2 separate regions of the Homo sapiens genome follow, and region 2 is linked to region 1. The links come from fine-mapping of genetic effects on gene expression. A gene starts in region 1. The other region holds a variant in brackets. All regions are shown on one strand. Distances are from middle to middle.

Region 1 (5,375 bases):
TGCGCACGGTGGTGCGTGCCTGCAGTCTCAGCTACTCAGGAGGCTGAGGCTGGAGGATCACTTGAGCCCAGGAGTTTGAGGCTGTAGTGAGCTATGATTGCACCACTGCACTCCAGCCTGGGTGACAGAGGGAGACCCTGTCCCCCACCAAAAAATTATTATTAACTATGATAAAGGCATAACGATAACACATAAGGAAACTCTATTCAGTACCTTACCGTATAGAAGGTAGGGTTAGGGAGGACCCTGGTTTTTGTGTCAAGAGGCTGAAGAAAGGTTATTGCCAGGCTAAACCTGCAAGGTTAGGAAGGGACCATGTTCTGAGTCTGGGGCTGGGGCAGACTCCACAAGGATGTTCTCACCACTACACCTGTCCCACTCACTTTAAATGGAGCATTTAGACCATTTACATTCAATGTTAGGATTGACTTGTGAGGTACCATTCCATTCATCGTGCTTTGTTGCCTGTGTACCTTGTTTTTTTTTGTTGTTTTTTAAATTGTATTTTTGTTGTATAGGTCCTGTGTGATTTATGCTTTAACGAGGTTCTGTTTTGATGTGTTTCCAGGATTTGTTTCAAGATTTAGAACTCCTTTTAGCAGTTCCTGTAGTGGTGGCTTGGTAGTGGCAAATTCTCTCACCATTTGTCTGAAAAAGACTGTATCTTTCCTTAATATATGATGCTTAGTTTCGCTGGATACAAAATTATTGGCTGATAATTGTTTTGTTTGAGGAGGCTAAAGATAGGGCCCCAATCCCTTCTAGCTTATAGGGTTTCCCACTCACTTTAAAGGAGAAATGTTTACCAGAGTTGTTATATAGCATAGAGGCTATGTGGAAGTTTGTATTAGGAGCTGAGAGGCAATAAAATTGGTAATTGACACAGGAACTGTGCTCCAAGTCTTTAGGATTTATCAGCTTTGAGACTGAAGAGATTGGAGAATCCAACTGTGGATGGCTAAAATCAATGTAAACATCTCAGTTTTTATAATGGGAAGTACCCTGATTAGCTAGCTATGCTCATTGCAAATATAAACAATTCAGAAGACTGTAAAGTGTAAAGACCTTGAAACTGAAAGTCCCTGATATTAATATCATTCATTCACCAGAGATAAACACTATTTTTTTTTTTTGAGACGGAGTCTCACCCTGTTGCCCAGGCTGGAGTGCAATGGCACCATCTCGGCTCACTGCAACCTCCGCCTCCCGGGTTCAGGCGATTCTCTTGCCTCAGCCTCCCGAGTATCTGGGATTACAGGCGCGCGCCTCCACGCCCAACTAATTTTTGTATTTTTAGTAGAGACGGAGTTTCACCATGTTGGCCAGGCTCGTCTCGAACCCCTGACCTCGTGATCCACCCGCCTCGGTCTCCCAAAGTGCTGGGATTACAGGCGTGAGCCACCGCACCCGGCCCTAAACACTATTTTAACAATATGGTGTCTTTTCTTCCAGACTGCCAGTAATTGAACAAAATATATGATTAACACAAAAAGGATACCATATGGACTCTTTAAACTTTTTTTTTTCAAATTTACTGTATCAGGGAATTAATATATCTTTTCGAGCCAATAGCTACAGGCCTTCCAATTTAAAAGATTAAGTTACAATAGAGTGAGATTTGGGGTGCTATCCCTTTCGGAAAGCGTCCTCGATGCGGTCATATTGGAATTAACCTCCACTCCCCTCTTCTCTGGGCTCCCGCAGACTCCAGGCTGAGTGCAGAAGCGTGGATTTTCACACCCAAACCTCTGTTATTTCAGTGTCTCACCTGGCTTCTCCACAGCGCAGAAGCTCAGCCCCTGGTTGGAAGAGCCTCCCCGCGGAGATTCACAGCAAAGCGCCATTCAGGGCCCAACTCCAAGCCCAAACCTAGCTCCTCCCCAAGCCGCCGCCAGAGACCCCTCTTCTCCCAAAGCTCACCGGGGCCCCGCCCCTGACTCCGCCCACCAGAGCCCGGTCCTCCAGTCCCGCCCCATCCCGGGCCCCACCCACCAGCCGGGCTCCGCCTACCCGGAAGCGCGCTGTCCTCCTCGTCCCGGGCTCCGCCCACCGGGAGTTCGCGCCACTCACCCCACCCCGGACCCGCCCACTTCGCTTGGGCTCCACCCTCCCAGGAACTGGCGCCGCTTGCCCCGAGCTCCGCCTACTTCGTCCCGGGCTTCCCGCGCCGGGAACTCGTGCTGCTAGTCCCGCCCTGGCCCCGCCCACCGCGCTACTGGCCCCACCACCCGGAAACTGCCCCGGCCCTCTCCCCCCGGGCTCCGCCCACCCCACGCCGGGAACCCACGCGGGCCACTACAAGCCCGCCCTTTCCTACGTCTGGTCCAGTCGGTCTTCCTCCGGCCCGGGCCCTGGCCCAGCTAGCCGGCCATGGAAGGTAATGGCCCCGCTGCTGTCCACTACCAGCCGGCCAGCCCCCCGCGGGACGCCTGCGTCTACAGCAGCTGCTACTGGTGAGGGGGCGCGGGCGCAGCCTCTGGGTCTCCCAGGCTCCCGGGCGGCGAGTCGCAACCGGGCCCCGCCTCTTCCCGGCCCCTCCTCGGGGGCGCTCCCGGCCTCTACCGGCGGGTTCTACAGTTTTGCGGGAGGAGGGAGCGGGAATGGCAGCTCTCGTCTCTTGAGTAGAGCGTGGGCTATTGGATGGGGTTGGGAATTCGTCCGGAATCATAGGGTCGATAGTGCATTACCTGTGCCTGGCGCTTGTCGGTTGGATTTGCTCAGCAGATCTCTGCTTCGGGGCCAGGAAGGGTGGAGCTCTGAAAATCTTTGGGGGTTACTCTGCTGAAGCCTGTGGGGTTTCAGACTGAGGTGAAGGTCATTTTAATTTTGTAAGAGAATGAAGGCACGGAGAGTTTTTCATACAGCACTTGCTATATGCCACGCGTTGTTCTGGGTGGTTTAGGTAAACTAAATCACTGAGCATCACAATAACCGTAAGAGGTAGGTATTGTTATCCCCAGTTGAAAGATGAGAGCACTGAAGCACAGAGGGCTGCAAGTAATTTGCGCAGGGCCACGTAGCTTGTGAATGAAGGAGTGGGGATTTACAGTCAGGGTCTGGCCCCGGAATCCACGCAGTGCACCCCTGTCCTAGGCCACCTCTGCAGCTGAAGTACCGCCCTTGCCTTAGTCCTCATACCTACTCTTTCCTGAGTAATGGCTTCTTCCCCAGCTTCTAGTCCTTGTACAGGAAACCTCAGTGCTATCTAAACCTACTCCTCCCCCTTCTGCTGGTCACTAAACCAATGCCACCAAGAGCTTAACATTTGTTCGGCCCTGATTGCATGTCAGGCTCAGTGGCAGGTGCTTCCATCGATGTCCAGGAGGTACCTTCTTTTATTATCGTTATCCTCATTTTACTAATAAAAAGACTGAGCCACAGAGAGGCTGTTCTGTGCCCCCAAATCACACATCTAGCAAGTGGTGGTGCTGAAACTGGAACCTCTTCGTGATTCTGAAGTTCATGCATCTTAACTACTGCACTATTTTTCTGTCCTGCCTCTCTTCTAAATCCCGTTAGTTCTCCTCCCTAATGTCCAGTCATTGTTTTATTCATTCATTCAATAAATGTTTATTAGGCACTTGGAGTATGTGGCATACTTCTGGGCACTGGGGATATAGCAGTGAACAAAATCGACAAATTCCCTCATGGATCCCTTGGTTCTTTCATTTTGAGAGAAAAGCAGATAAGGCCCGGTGCGATGGCTCACGCCTGTAATTCCAGCACTTTGGGAGGCCGAGGTGGGCGGATCTCTTGAGGCCAGGAGTCTGAGACCAGCCTGGCCGACATGCAGAAACCCTGCCTCTACTAAAAATACAAAAATTAGCCAGGTGTGGTGGCGTGCACCTGTAATCCCAGCTACTCGGGAAGCTGAGGCAGGAAAATCGCTTGAACCTGGGAGGTGGAGGTTCCAGTGAGCTGATGCCACTGCCCCTTCCTGCCTGGGCAACAGAGCAAGACTCCATCTCAAAAAAAAAAAAAAAATAAAAAGCCAAAAAAACAAGTAAACCATGTTTGGGTGATGTTAAATACTATGAGAAAAATAAGATAAAGGATGGTGACTTATCTTCTATTAGGATATTTTGAGAAGACATTGTTGATAAGGTGATATTTGAAAAGAGATCTGAAAAAAGAGGGTGGGAGCTTTGCAACTATTGGAGGATGGTTGTTTAAGCAGGGAGAACAGCAGGTACAAAGGCTCTGAGAAGGAATGGTGCTGTGAGTGTGATAGGAACAGTGAGGAGGCTGGTACAACTGGAGTATTGGAGTTAGAGCAGTCTTGTAGAAGAATGGTAAGAGATGACCACTCTACCACAGAGTTTCTCCATCTTGGCTTGAGTGACATTTTGAGCATGATAATTCCTTGCTATGGAGGCTGTCCTGTGTATTGCAGGACGTGTAGCAGCATCCCTGGCTTCTACCCACTAGATACTGTTAGCACCCTAGCCCTAGTTATGACAACCAAAAATGTCTCCAGACATTGCTAAGTGTCCTGTAGGGGTTGGGGGGCAAAATCGCCTCTTGCTGAGAACCAGTGCTCTACCCTGTCTGAACACATCAGGTGGGGACACCACACTACTTTGGCTCCTGCAGCTTTGGGGGTTTTTTTTTTTTTTTTTTTTTTTTTTTTTTTTTTTGAGACAGAGTCTCAGTCTGTTGCCCAGGCTGGAGTGCAATGATGCCATCTTGGCTCACTGCAGCCTCCACCTCCCAGGCTCAAGCCATTCTTCTGCCTCAGCCTCCTGAGTAGCTGGGACTACAGGCACCCACCACCATGCCCAGCTAATTTTCGTATTTTTAGTAGAGACGGGGTTTCACCACATTGGCTGGGCTGGTCTTGAACTCCTGACCTCAGGTGATCCACCTGCCTCAGCCTCCCAAAATTCTGGGATTACAGGTGTGAGTCACCGTGCCCGGCCATCCTGCAGGTTTTTTAAGTTGAAATGAATGCCTCCTGTCTACTTCTGTTAGCTTCCGTCATGTTAGCTTCCAGATGTTACTTACGCTTCAAGACCCTGCTTAATGATAATAGTGGCAGCCAGTATTTGTTTGGGACTGTGTCGTCAGCAGAGCATTTCTGATTCTGACTTAATTGTTTTGTGTTTTTCAAACAATTGTGGAGTGCCTGCTTTGTGCCAGGGGTCCTCCCCATCTGCATGCATCTCTGACCTCAGCTCATCACTGGGAACCCCTGGAGTGTCCCAACCTTTCTGCTGCCAAGATGATCAGCTGACAGCTTGGGGCAAATCCACAGCCCTCCCTCCCTCCCTCCCTCCCTTCCTTCCTTCCTTTCTTCCCTCCCTCCCTCCCTCCTTCCTTCATTCCTTTCTTCCCTCCCTCCCTCTCTCCCTTTTTTGAGTCCCTTATGCTTTTGT
Region 2 (5,375 bases), 35 kb after region 1:
TAGTGAGCCTGAGATCACATCACTGCACTCCAGCCTGGGCGACAGAGTGAGACTCTGGCTCGCTGCTTTCTCTCTCTCTCTCTCTCTCTCTCTCTCTCTCTATCTCTCCATATGTATATATGTGTGTGTATATATATATGTGTGTGTGTGTGTGTGTGCATATATATATATATATATATATATGCTGGATAAAGGGGTCCCAGAGTCAAGTGGAGAGATGTAGGATAGGAATATCAAATTGGGAGACATCTGTTAATAGATGACATTTAAAGATACAGGCCTCTATGATATCATTGAGAGAATGTGTGTGGATAGAGGAAAGGTCCAGGGACCTAGCCTAGGGAGCTTTTATTTAGGGCTTAGGAGATGGGAAGACAGATGGAATGGTCATGGAGGAAGGAGGAGAAAACAAGGATGCCCAAAGGAGAAAGTGGTATTAGAAGGGGAGAGGGATCAGCTCTGTCAGATGTTGCTGATCAGTTGAGTAAGTTGAGGACTGGGATGACCGTTGGTTTTGGCACTGTGGAGGTCTGTGGGCAATTTCAGTGGAGTGATGGGGATGACAGCCTAATTTCAGTAGGTTCAGGAGGGAACAGGAGGAAGGAAGTAGAGTGGTTTGGGAAGGGGGCAGAGAAAGGGGGTGGTACTGCAGGAGGATGTGGGTCAGCAGGGGAGACTGCTGTTTGCCAGGTTGTCAGCTGATTCTTCCATTTTGAAGAACGAATTACCCATTTCTGCCCCTCCAAGGAGACCTCTCATGACATCAAAACCTGTCTGTCCTCCAGGGCCACTGTCTCTGAAGCAGGGCAAACACTCCTCAGTTCTCACTCTGTAGGACGCTCCCTTTGACTCGATCCATCCCTTGGTTCATGCAGCCCTTCTTCAGCATTGACAGAGAGGAAAGAAAGCTGGATAACTTTCAGGGATATTTCATCCAGGTCATGGGGAAGCCTCAGGCACCACTCCAATAACTCTTTGCTTTTTTTCCTTGACCTCTTCCCACTTTGCAGTGTTTTCTTCACAAAGCAGCCAAAGTGATCTTTATTTTTTCTTTCTGCTTCATGTCTCCTTCATACAGAGTGATCTGTTAAAAACCAGACTATCTCATTCCCGTTTTCAAACAACAACAAACCACCACCACTTTGCAATGGCCTCAGCATGTCCTTAAGCTAAATATACTGTTCTACCCTGGCTCTCAGGCCCTGTGTGGTCTGGATTACGGCTGTCTCTGTGATTTCAGCTCTGCTACTGCTGGCCCATTCCCTGTCCTGCTTCCCCCGTTAGGTTTCTTTTGGTGAGCAGGACAAGCTCATTCCTTCCTCAGGGACCTCACATTCTGTTTACCCTGATCTGACCCTTTTTTTCTCCCTTATCTTCTGTTGGCTGACACTGCCTGACATTGAGGTCTGAGCTCCGAGTCTGGTAATTCTTCCCTGGTGACGTATCTAGAGCTGACTGCCCCAGTCAACATGACAGTACCCTTTTTTCTTCATAGCAGTTATCACTAACTGAAATGATCTTGCACACTTATTTGTTTAAAAGTCTGTTTTCCTTTTTTTTAAATTAAGATGGAGTCTCACTCGGTCACCCAGGCTGGGGTGCAGTGGCGTGATCTTGACTAACTGCAGCCTCCGCCTCCTGGATTCAAGGGATTCTCCTGCCTCAGCCTCCCAAGTAGCTGGGATTATAGGCATGTGCCACCACACCTGGCTAATTTTTGTATTTTTATTAGAGACAGAGTTTCATCATGTTGGCCAGTCTGGTCTCGAACTCTTGACTTCAATTGGTCCGCCCACTTCAGCCTCCCAAAATGCTGGGATTACAGGCACGAGCCACCACACCTGGTCTAAAAGTCTGTTTTCTATCTCCCTCCATTGGACTGTGAGTCCTCCCTGCCTTATTCTCCACTGTAATACAGTGTCTTGGTATCTGATACCTTATAGTAAGCACTCAACAAATATTCCTCAAGCATTCAATAAAGGAACAACTCCTGTCACCAAAGGGGTCTGGAACATCAAGTCCGCCACTCCACTGGATCTCAGGATAATGCT[A/C]GAAAACTGCTGCTAAAGTCTTGTGCTTTGAATTATTCCCGTTGACTAGATTCTATTCCTTTTTTAGATGATCTTGTCCTTTTTCAAACCGGTTTTGTCTGCAGTCCCTTCAGCCTTAACTCCAAGCCCTACTCTTCCACCTTTTGGTGTGAAAAGCACGTTATGAATGACTTTTGCAGAGAGCAAAGAACACCATGGATTTATTTAATTAGTTCTCTCACATTCTTGGCAGGCACCTCATTCCAGCCTCTTGTCACAAACGCAGATATGGAAAGCACCATGTCTAGTGTCTGATATTGAGAGCAGGAGCTCACAGTATACTTTTCCCCTTTGCTCCAAGCTGACCACTCAGCCTAGCACCAGAGAATGAACTATGTCTTTTACCCTGGCAGTCCAGGGAGAATGTGGCTTTGGCCCTGAGCTTTACAGCAGGTATCTGTTCAGGCCAGGCTTTTAATAACATCCATTTATTGGTCAGGCACAGTGGCTCACACCTGTAATCCTAGCACTTTGGGAGGCCAACGCCGGTGGATCACTTAAGGTCAGGAGTTCAAGACCAGCCTGGCCAACATGATGAAACCCTGTCTCTACTAAAAATATGAAAATTAGCTGGGCATGATGGCAGATGCCTGTAATCCCAGCTACTTGGGAGGCTGAGGCAGGAGGATCTCTTGAACCCAGGAGGCAGAGGTTGCAGTGAGCTAAGATCGAGCCATTGCACTCCAGCCTGGGTGACAGCAAGACTCGGTCTCCACACACAAAAATAAAATTTTAAAAGGCTGGGCACGGTGGCTCATGCCTGTAATCCCAACACTTTGGGAGGCCTAGGCGGGCGGATCACCTGAGGTCAGGCATTTGAGACCAGCCCGACCAACATGGAGAAACCCCGTCTTTACTAAAAATACAAAAAAAAAAATAGCCAGGCATAGTGGCGCATGCCTGTAATCCCAGCTACTCGGGAGGCTGAGGCAGGAGAATTGCTTGAACCCGGGAGGTGGAGATCGCACCATTGCACTCCAGCCTGGGCAACCAGAGCGAAACTCCCTCTCAAAAAAAACAAAACAAAACAAAACAAAAAACAAAATTGCATCCATTTATTATCAAGGGAGCACTCATAGCAGAACTTCACTTAGAGTCAATAGGCAATCTCTCCTGAGGTTTCCATGGGGACCTGGAGTTTTAGAGCAATTTCTGGGAAGAACATTGGAAGGAAATTGTGGGGCAAGATGTTAATACAGTCACACCGTTCTGGCACACGCTGTTTCTGCAGCCGTAAGTGACGGTTGAATCAGTTCCCACTCAAGGCCCACAGGATGCAGAGCTATGTTTGACCTCCTTGGGGCCAGATGCTGAGGAGATCTTGTCCCTGCCCCTGGAATACAGGAAAAATAAGTTCAAGTCCTTGGCCCCCGTTACAGTTTTGCATTTGCTAGTGACATACTGTGTGACCTTGGGAAAGTCACTTAACCTCTCTGGGCCTTCCTTGCCTCACCTAAGAATTATTTTGAGGCTCAAATGAGATTGTGTGTGTGTTGGCAGGGAAGAGAATATTTCATACACCGAAAGGTGAAGTGTTTTGTTGCTTTTTTTTTTTTTCTTTTTTGGAACAGAGTTTTGCTCTTGTCACCTAGGCTGGAGTGCAGTGGCACGATCTCAGCTCACTGCAACCTCTGCCTCTCAGGTTCAAGTGATTTTCCTGCCTCAGCCTCCTGAGTAGCTGGGACTATAGACACCTGCCACCATGCCTGGCTAATTTTATATTTTTAGTAGAGACGGGTTCACCATGTTGGCCAGGCTGCTCTCGAATTCCTGACCTCAGGTGATCTGCCTGCTTTGGCCTCCCAAAGTGCTGGGATTACAGGTGTGAGTCATCGTGCCTGGCCCCAGATAGCTCATCTAAGCTCTTCATGTGTATGAACTCAATCCTCAAAACAACAATATAAGGTAGATACCATTATTCTCCTCATGTTACAAATTAGGAAACGTAGGCACAGTAAAGTAAAGTGACTTATAGAAAGCCACATAGCTAGTGAGTGGTGGAGACAGGATTTGAATCTAGGCATTCCCACTCCAGGGCCTGGCTGCCATCCAATTCCCAGTTCACCCAGTTCCAAGTTCATGCCCACATTCTGTAATCAGATAATGGGTCACTAGCAAGGTGCTGTCTGTTGTAGGGCAGGAGTGGGTCACTGAGCTTCCCCATGGTCGGGATGAAGTGTCCTTCACAGCTGTCCACCTGAAGTAACTTACCCTGTAGTTACTGCAAATAAACTTTATCAATAAATGTCAAACTTGTTAAAAAGGCAAATGTCCAGAACCTCCCTGAGTGGTTCTGGTTTAGTAAGCATCCCAGTCAGGTCTCAGCGGCAGAGAACAGAAATTGCTTGCTACGTGAATCCAAAAGGCATTTGATTCAAAGTGATGGAGACGGGAAACAAACATCTAGAGAAACAGTCATTCATAGTGAAGTTCTGCTATAATTGCTCCCTTGATAATAAATGGATGCAATTTTGTTTTTTGTTTTGTTTTGTTTTGTTTTTTTTGAGAGGGAGTTTCACTGTGGTTGCCCAGGCTGGAGTGCAATGGTGCGATCTCAGCTCACCACAACTCCACCTCCCAGGTTCAAGCAATTCTCCTGCCCCAGCCTCCCGAGTAGCTGGGATTACAGGCATGCGCCACTATGCCTGGCTAATTTTTTTGTATTTTTAGTAAAGACGGGGTTTCTCCATGTTGGTCGGGCTGGTCTCAAACGCCTGACCTCAGGTGTAGCAGTCGGAGATGCACTCACTTCTAGCCTTGGTGCCCAGACCTGTGAACTCTGGCAGTACTGTCACTGGTTCAGAGCATCTACTACATCTTATGGGACAGAACCCCAGTGTCACCAGGTGGTGTCTGCCAGCGGATACTGTAGCTCAGTCTCCAATGGGCCATTCATTCTACCATCAAGAAGATCACCTACCCCTGGGGACCACGGTAAGATCAGAGCATCTGGGGGGTACCAGCATATGGACCCATTTCTTTTGCTGTGAATGGATTTGTGATCAGAAGCAATGTGGGTGTCTGGCGTTGTGGCAGTGGATGAGGCATTCATTGAGTTGGTAAGTTGCTGGCAGAAGCATGGTGATTAGGAAAAGGAAATCCATGTGTGGAAGAAGTGTTTATTCAAGGGAGGGGAAAAGTCACCTGTCTTCCATTTTGTTTTCAATTAGCAATAATCACGCCTCGGATAAACCTCATTGGCTATGATACTGCCACACGCAAAGCTCTGTCTTCCCTTTTGGAAGGGATGCCTCATAATTAAGATGCCATAGCTCAGCCTTGGTC

Alleles and levels. Positions count from the first base shown, and alleles are read on the strand shown. Sizes are in standard deviations (SD) of each study's normalised expression.
As copies of C replace A in region 2, the expression in thyroid of the gene that starts at base 2,295 in region 1 goes up (moderate effect, 0.46 SD a copy in GTEx).

Evidence for each region.
Region 2: its variant is fine-mapped to the expression of NTAQ1 in thyroid (GTEx, PIP 0.98).

What each region holds. Positions count from the first base shown.
Region 1 is chr8:123,414,480-123,419,854 of GRCh38, forward strand. NTAQ1 (N-terminal glutamine amidase 1) reads left to right here and starts at 2,295. Exons shown (of 6, transcript NM_018024.3): 1 at 2,295-2,453. The coding sequence starts at 2,371. It also overlaps a transcript of ATAD2 not described here. RefSeq lists silencers at 1,874-2,353, 2,464-2,663, 2,984-3,033 and an enhancer at 2,467-3,061.
Region 2 is chr8:123,449,792-123,455,166 of GRCh38, forward strand. It overlaps a transcript of NTAQ1 not described here and the pseudogene LOC124902105. Among named protein-coding and RNA genes, the nearest start is that of NTAQ1, 36 kb to the left of the region's middle. The variant A/C (reference allele first, on the strand shown) is at 2,052.